Linked DNA regions of Homo sapiens: all the other regions are linked to region 3. The links come from fine-mapping of genetic effects on gene expression. A gene starts in region 3. Each other region holds a variant in brackets. All regions are shown on one strand. Distances are from middle to middle. Region 1 overlaps WDTC1 (WD and tetratricopeptide repeats 1). Region 2 overlaps TMEM222 (transmembrane protein 222). Region 3 holds the start of WDTC1 (WD and tetratricopeptide repeats 1).

Region 1 (2,754 bases), 75 kb after region 3:
TCTTCTAGCTTGGTAATGAAGTATATTTATTGGTGAAGGAAACAGCTGCTGCTGCTTCTCCTGCTGCTGGGACCTGCTCCCCTGTCTCTTCTCCGTGACCTTTCTCTAGCCAGGGAGAAGGGAGAGCAGGAGTATTGGGGCTGGGCCCTGGGGCCCAAGGACCAGCTGGGTCCCCTTTGCTTTCTTGTGTTCCAGCCACCTGCCATTTCCTCCCTGCCTCCCACCCTCCCTCCCTGCCCCCTGTCCTGCTTCCCACCCCCTGCCTGCCCAGCCTGGGCCCTGCAGTGTGGAGAGACACATAAGCCTTACTGTCCTCTGGGGGCAGGAGCCGAGCCTTTTTGTTGCTCCGCTCCCAGGAGAGTGAGGGTGACGCAATTGATTAAAACCATTTTGTTCTAGGTGTGGCTGGTGGCATTTGTGGGGTGCAGATGGGTCTTGGAACCAAAGTGAGGGCACCTGGTCCCTCACCTCTGTAGCTCTATGACTTAGTAACCACACCTCTACTGGACAGAATGAGGCCTGCCTTGAAGGGTCACCGTGAGCAGCGGCCACCCAGCCCAGCAGGGCTGAGTGCAGAGCCCAGCTCTCATGGCTGTGATTTGTAATCATCAGCTTTCACTCTCTGGCTGTTTTCTCATCAGTAAAATAAGGGACTTGGAATCTTAGTGGTTTTTCAAACCATTTTACATTGTGACCCAATATACACATGATTACTTGTAGATATGTGTGTGTGTATATATATATAAAAAAAATGAACAAAAGTTTTACACAATAATATTTACCCTTGCTACATGCAGTGTACTCTGCTTACCCTTCTGTTTTATTAGGGAAAAAAATATGGCTATAACCCACTAAATTGATTTCACATATGCAAGTTTTTGAAGTGCCCTGGATTAGATAATCTCTTAGACTATAGGTTCCTGAACTTTCTTAGCTCACAGCACCATTACCATCTCAGTAATTTTTTCATGGAGCCTCTAAGCCAAAAGAAATAACAGTTCAATTTATTAAGTAGTTAAGTCCAAATCACTTAAAAAGTATTTATGTCCTAACAAGTTAGTTGCCATTTAAAAAATAATACACCTGAATTGGAAGAAACAATATTTATTTCATTCTTTTTTTTTTTTTTTTTTTTTGAGACGGAGTCTTGCTCTGTTGCCCAGGCTGGAGTGCAGTGGCATGATCTCAGCTCACTGCAACCACCGCCTCCCGGGTTCAAGTGATTCTCCTACCTCAGCCTCCCAAGTAGCTGGGATTACAGGCATGTGCCACCATGCCCAGCTATTTTTTTTTTTTTGCATTTTTATTTATTTTTTATTTTTT[A/AT]TTTTTTTTTTGAGACAGTTTCGTTTTTGTCGCCCAGGCTGGAGTGCAATTGTGCAATTGCGGCTCACTGCAACCTCCGCCTCCTGGGTTCAAGCGATTCTCCTGCCTCAGCCTCCCAAGTAGCTGGGATTACAGGTGCCCGCCACCACACCCAGCTAATTTTTTGTATTTTTAGCAGAGATGGGGTTTCACCACCTTGGCCAGGCTGGTCTCAAACTCCTGACCTCAGGTGATCTGCCCGCCTCAACCTCCCAAAGTGCTGGGATTACAGGTGTGAGCCACCGCGCCCAGCCTTCATTCTTAAACAACTGCAATTACTAATGGGATCTATGCTGCCCATTGGGCACTGAACAACTTGTTAAATTTTCTAATCAAAGCAAACACTGCTGCCTTCATTTCCTGTCCCACATTGATTTTCATTTGCTTTTTATCACAGCAACCACTAAAGACCCAGCTTCTTTTTTTTTTTTTTTTTTTTTTTTGAGGCGGAGTCTTGCTCTGTTGCCCAGGCTGGAGTGCAGTGGTGCGATTTCGGCTCACCGCAAGCTCCACCTTCTGAGTTCATGCCATTCTCCTGCCTCAGCCTCCTGAGTAGCTGGGACTACAGGCAGCTGCCACCAGACCTGGCTTATTTTTTATGTTTTTAGTAGAGATGGGGTTTCACCACGTTAGCCAAGATGGTCTCGCTCTCCTGACCTTGTGGTCCACCCGCCTCGGCCTCCCAAAGTGCTGGGATTACAGGCATGAGCCACTGCGCCCGGCCAAGACCCAGCTTCTTAAAGATGACATCATCAAAAGGATTGTGGCATAATGTAATAATGGAACTGTGAACTACCTTGAGCTAATAGTTCTCTCATTAGCCAAAGATGTTGAATATCTTTCAAAATATCCTACTTTGCCCCCTGTGAATTTGCTGTGGGTGCCCTCAGGCACCTTGATGCACAGTTGGGGAACTATGGTTTAGTCTGTGGGAATAGCAGTTCCACTACTGAAACTACTGAGAGGTCCTGCCGGAAACACAATAGGTGGTATTATAAAACAGATACTGTGGGCTGGTATCATTCCTCTGTGTACCCAAATTAACGTCTGCAGAAGCTTCTTGAAGGCATTTCCAGACCAGACAAAGGAAGGACAATGTTCCAGACCAGGGAGTAGTGCAGAGTCTCAGGTTCCTTCATGAACCCTGAGTGACTCCATCTGGCTGGATTGTAGAGGGTAGACTGGAGGAGCAGTCAAACTGAAGGACTTCCTATGGCTGGTGAGAGACCACAGACTCAATCCTGTAGGCAAGGGAGGCATTGGAAGACTTCACGAGGGTCTCCATTTCATTTGGAGTTGGTACTCCATTTTTTAAAAAATTAATAGCCTTTACTTTCTAGAGCAGTTTTAGGCTTACAGAAAATTGAGCAGATAGTATAATGAGTTTCATAT
Region 2 (2,754 bases), 97 kb after region 3:
ATGAGAGCTCTGGTTGTCCCTTGCCCTCACCTGCATTGGTGTTGCTGTCGTTTGAGTTACAGCCATCCTGGCGGGATGCTGAGGTATCCCATTGTGCTGTCGGTTTGCAGTTACCCTTGTCTGTGCTTCCCCAGCCTTCTGGACCACCCTAATGGCCACCTGTCAATGAAACGTAATATTCACATGCTTCTGTACTGTATGAAGGGTCCCCAGCGTCCGTCTAACTGGCTGAAAGATCCCCTAAGCTCTGTCCCTTCCCCGTCCTTTTCCTCACAGGTGGTTTTTCCCCATCATCGGCCACATGGGCATCTGCACATCCACAGGAGTCATTCGGGACTTCGCGGGCCCCTACTTTGTCTCAGTGAGTCCCCATTCTGCCCACCCGGGGGGTTCCAAGGTTTAAGTGGAAGGCTGTCCTGTCTTGCCTGCAGGCAGGCTTCGTCTCCCCAGACCCAGGAGAACGTAGATAACCCGCAGTCCTGGCCCTGGCCCTCTGCCCCTCACCAGTGTTTGACCCCTTTCCCCCTTCTCTTGCCTCCAGGACAGGCCGGGAGGGCAGTGTGGCCAGAAGGATTCTTAAGTAACTGACCCAGCCCTTTGCCCCCACCCCTGGGGTACCGAGACATGGGTAGGGATTAGAGGCAAGAGTGGAGAGTCAGACCATCCAGGAACCACATCTCTGGACCTTCAGAAGGTGGGAGTCAAGGTGGGGGGACACGGGAGGCTGATTCGGTTCCCTGGGTGTGGCCATGGAGAAGAGGGGGTGGGGCTTTAGAATGAAGCAGCTGTGTTCTCAGGTCTGTTCCCTGGGGCTGTGACCAAGACTGGTCCAGTGGGCTAGCAGCAGAGGAGCATGCATCATCCTGTCTCCAGGTGTCAGAGGCTGGACTGAAGGGGTGTGGTGGCACCAACCTGTTTATATTAATAGTTGTCATGATCATCTTAACACGACAAAGGTCTGTCACTTTGTACTTAAAAATACTTTCACATCCATTACTTTATCATATATTTTTATGGTGATTAATCATTGACCAGGTCTGTCAGCAGGGTCTCCCTGATCTGAACCCAGAGTCTGTCTCTGTGTAAGTCCTGTACCCCAGGAATAATGTGATGAGTCTAGGACTTCACTGCAGTGTCTCCCTCACAGGAAGTCCCTCTGGGCCCAGCGCCCCCGCCCTGCTATGAATGCAGTCAGACTGCTGGGCGAGGAGATGGTCTCCATGTGGGCCACCACTGTTGAGTCAGGAGGCCAGACCATGATGGAAACCTCCTGCTGGTCCTCAGAGATCAGAGAAGACTGACCAGAGAACTTGGAGAAAATGAGGCCCAGAGAGGGCAAGAGAATTCCTGGGTGCCACACCAAGGGACAGTGGCAGCTGGAGCCCCAGATCTTTGGTCTCTGATGCAGTGCTCTGTGCACTTGTGCCACACTG[CCTT/C]CTTCCTGCAGAACAGCTGCTAGCTCTTTAGATGCCATGCCAGCCCCAGGGCAGGGCCCAGGCCCCACTTCTGGCCCCCCCACCCCTGACATACCCTCTTCTAAGTCACTGCACTTCTGCCACCTACCCAGGTTTGTCATCTGGCCCAAATGTAAGTTCCTCACTGACCTCTGCTTTTGTCCCTCAACAGGAGGACAACATGGCCTTTGGAAAGCCTGCCAAGTAAGTGATGAACACCCATGTGACTGGCTCTAGAGGCAGGTCGCTCCTGCCGGGGCGGGCCAGGCCTTCTGGGGCACAGGAGGGGCCAGCACCCTGAGAATAGAGTATTTGGGGTCGGGGGAGAGGTCAGCCAGGGTCCACCAGAGCATGGCAACCCCATACAGAGTGTGTACCGCACCAGCCCCTGGCTAGGGCCTTTACCTGTAGACCATCTGGGCCTTGCCACAGCTCTTCAGGTTTGTATTTTCAACTCCATGGCAAGGGTGAGGAAAGGGAAGGGACTTGGTCAAGGTCACACAGGAAGTGGCAGAGCTGGGACCCACACCCAGATCTGTCTCCCTCTAGACTCACTCTCCTGCCCTTTGGGAACAAATGAGGCATGGAAGGTAGAAGAGAGGCATTGTTTGGAGCTCTGCTGGAAAGTTCTGGTTGGAGAGAATAAAAACCGTTCAACCTTCTGGGAGCTATTGCTGGTTTGGTTTGGGACATTTGGTCTTCATCTTTGCAGTCTCGGGTGCCCACCTCAGCTGTGGGCCTGGTGAGAGTGCCTCAGTCATCAGTGTCCTCAGGTGACCTGTTGCCCAAGGCTGCACTGGGAGGAGAGACTGGGCCGAGGAGGAGTTGGTGTCCCACACAGCTGAGATGGCCTGGAGCAGGGCTTCCTGCTGCCCTCTCTGGCTTCCTCCGGCAGGCAGCAGTGTAGTCCAGGAGTCTCTGGGCCACCAGGTGTTCGCTGCCAGACTGCTCTTCAAGGACAGTTTTAAGGGCATCATTTTCCAAGCAGTAGCCCCTAAGCGGCCCCAGTCCAGGCCATGGTCTCTAGACTCCTCCACCAAGCCATTCCCCTACACAACAGCCAGGGGGCGCCCTGACCTCCCAGCTCTCCTTGGCCTGAGACCCACCGGGCACTCTGGTGCTTGGAACAGCAATTCTCACCCACCTTGAGGTTTATGGGCTTTAGCACCATCAGCTTCCCTGCCACTCACCCTGGCAAGCTGCCTGGGAGACTAGGGGAGAGTGCTTGCTGCTGGGTAAACTCCCCGCGTGATGTGGCCTCACCTGCATCTCCAGCCTTAGCTGCCAGCATTCCATCACC
Region 3 (2,754 bases):
TGACCCTAACCAAGGTTGCAGCCTGAACCTGGGGAGCTGCAGATAGATGATCTCAAAGCTTTCTTCTAGTCCCAAAGTCTATGATTTTTTATATTCAGTAGAACAGCTGTGGTGGAGAGTTCAGGGGGAATGACCCACAATATTTTTAGGAGAAAGGCATAAAAGGCTTTGTGAGCGGTTTCACAAGGATAGGTTCTTACTCCTCTAAATGGGGAGAAATCTCCCTTGCGGAGAAATCACCAGCAATTAGAATACTACCTTTGTCTCTGGGAGTATTCAGGTATTCACAGACAAATTCGTACTCATGATGTGAGCAGAATTGGAAAAAAAAAAAAAAAAAAAAAAAAAAAACAAGCGACACATGGAGTGATAAACACTATAAATGCCAAATACATATATTCAGTCCTTACTGAGAGCGGGTGCTGTCTGGTTTTCACAGGAAAGACAGGCAGTGTTAAAAGGCTCAGACTCTGGTGTCAGGCAGATCTGGGTCTAATTCCCAATTTGCCAACTTATCAGGACCCCGGGGGCAAGTTGCTTTTAGCCTTTCTGCTTCAGCTTTCCTTTTCTGCAAAACACAGACAGCAATAGTACCTAGCTAAGAGACTGTACCCAATCCAGTGCGAATAAAAGTGAATTATTGTTAGTATCTGACAAATGGCACCCTATGGGTGACAAGTTTCCTTTGTCAGAAGGTGACACGTCTTCCCTTTCTGACTTGAGGTTTCACGGGTGGGGCCTGGTCTCTGCCTTAAGAAGATAGGCTTAGTGCCACCCTTGTCACCTTGGGAACTTCCTTAATAAAGAGGAGGGTCTCTCCTCCATCAGACCCGGGACTCCACAAGGCTGGAACTGCGTCTCTTCCTCAGAGGTGGGAGCAGCAGTGACTCCGCTAGGGTCAGATGGACCTAGTCGCTCCCATCACCCCGAGGGCACCCAGAGTGTGTGTGGCTGACTCCTCTCCAGGCTACTCAGCGTAGGCCCGATTCTCTTTCATTCTCTTCCTTAAGGCCCAGGAGACGTCAGTGAGGACTGTGCCACTTCAGCAGCCCCCCAGAGCAGGAAGGAGTGGGCTGAGGAGCCCCCCGGGGCCCTAGCCTGAGAGGTCCCAGAATTCGGGGGCTGAGAGGAAGTCTTAGGAGCTCTTAAGGGGCTGTGAGGGGACCTGGGGTTCAGTGGGCGAGCGTGTGGGCGGGTGTCCCAGAAGCGGTGTGAGGAGCGTTTTACCCGGTGGTGGGGTGGGAGGTGCGTCCGGGTAACTAATGGCAACCGGGCGGGGTGAGCCCGCTCTGCAGGAACTCCTCGACGGCGAAAAACTACGACTCCCAGGGTGCCCCAGGGCTTAGCCCAGCTTTCCCGCCCGCCCACTGGCTGCCGGTCCCGCAAGCGGCGAAGCCCATTGGCCACGGCGGTGCGGGGCTCCCCCACTAGCAGGTTAGTGGGCGCCGCCGGCAGCAGACGTTGACCGGGCGCGGGGGGGTAAGTGGGGGGGCCCGGCTAGCCATTCTGGAAGCGGCCGGGCGCAGTCTTCGTAGCGTACCCGCCGGCTGCGAGGCGCAGGGCGGAGGCGGAGACTGCGTGGCGCAGGCGCGTTGCTGGGCTTCTCCTGGGTCCCCAGACAGCTGGAGGAGATAAACAGAGGAGGAGGAGGGAGGGGAGTGCGTGTGTGAGAGCGCGCGAGGGAGTGTGAGTGTGTGTGAGCGCGGGTGTGAGGCGGTGCGCAGGGGCGGGCGGAGGCGCTGTCCGGCCCCGGCCAGGCGCCGGGCGGGGAGCATGGGAAGGGGCTAGAACTGCTCGAGCCCCCCAGCCCCCTCCCCGGGATCCGCGCCCCCCTTCCCGGGAGAGGGGCCGCCCCCCCCGGACGGACATGGGCTCCTGAAGTTGCGCCGCTGCCGGTCGGGGGAAGAGACCTGACAGGTACGGGTCACCGCCGCCCCCTGCCCTCCGCGGGCGCCGAGGCGGGGACCGGCTCCCGCAGCCCCGGTGAACGGGCCGCCCGCTCTGGGCCGGCTCCAGCCCTGCCGGCCTGGGGGCCTGAGCCTACCCGCCTCGGGGCCCCGGGTGTCCCGAGAGGGGCCAGGCCTCGCCGGGGCGGAGGGCAGAGTGGTCCGGGGGCGGGGTGGGGGCGGAGGGTTTGGTCGGGACGCGGGGGGAGGCTGTGGGAGTCCGGGGAGGCTCTGCGGAGGGAGAGGTGGAAGTCATTCCATCATGGGACTTTTTTGCGGAGTTTTTGTTTGACATCTGATCTGGCGCCGGAGTCAGGAAGAAGGGGCAGGTGTAAGTGCTGGGAGGGCAACGCCGACCTGACCTGCCCTCTTAGCTTCTCGCTCTCTCTCTTTCTGTTTTTCTCTCTCTCTTTCTGTGTGTGTGTGTGTGTGTGTGTGTGTGTGTGTGTGTGTGTGTCCACAGCAGATGCCTTCAGTGGCCCATCCTGGCACCAAACAACTCTGCCAAGGTGTTTCCACCAGGCGACTGTAGCACCCCGTATACAAAGGGCCTCTGCTTGGGAACGGGCTATTCAGTACCCACTTCAAAGGGTAAATAGGAAGTGAGGAGATAGAAGAGAGACTGCGAACCAGCAGGATCCACTTCTTGGACTGAAAGCCGCAGTGGGACGCCCCTTTGCCAGATTGGTTGACTTTGCTTGGTGGCTTGGGCTCTCTCTCCTCTGCGGGTGTACTCCCAGGGTTTCTAGAGGAGAGGTACAGGGGCCTGTAACTAATGTCTTAATAGCCGAATTTGACTGTTTTCCCC

Evidence for each region.
Region 1: its variant is fine-mapped to the expression of WDTC1 in whole blood (INTERVAL, PIP above 0.99).
Region 2: its variant is fine-mapped to the expression of WDTC1 in whole blood (TOPMed, PIP above 0.99).

What each region holds. Positions count from the first base shown.
Region 1 is chr1:27,307,845-27,310,598 of GRCh38, forward strand. It overlaps WDTC1 (WD and tetratricopeptide repeats 1), which reads left to right. Exons shown (of 16, transcript NM_001276252.2): 16 at 1-792. Among named protein-coding and RNA genes, the nearest start is that of TMEM222, 13 kb to the right of the region's middle. RefSeq lists enhancers at 1-463, 464-988. The variant A/AT (reference allele first, on the strand shown) is at 1,324.
Region 2 is chr1:27,330,444-27,333,197 of GRCh38, forward strand. TMEM222 (transmembrane protein 222) reads left to right here. Exons shown (of 6, transcript NM_032125.3): 2 at 277-361; 3 at 1,627-1,658. Among named protein-coding and RNA genes, the nearest start is that of TMEM222, 9.7 kb to the left of the region's middle. The variant CCTT/C (reference allele first, on the strand shown) is at 1,434.
Region 3 is chr1:27,233,035-27,235,788 of GRCh38, forward strand. WDTC1 (WD and tetratricopeptide repeats 1) reads left to right here and starts at 1,598. Exons shown (of 16, transcript NM_001276252.2): 1 at 1,598-1,917. It overlaps WDTC1-DT (WDTC1 divergent transcript), which reads right to left and starts at 1,395. Exons shown (of 3, transcript XR_947117.2): 1 at 1,228-1,395; 2 at 411-568. RefSeq lists silencers at 1,418-1,477, 1,678-1,827, 2,018-2,067, 2,228-2,277.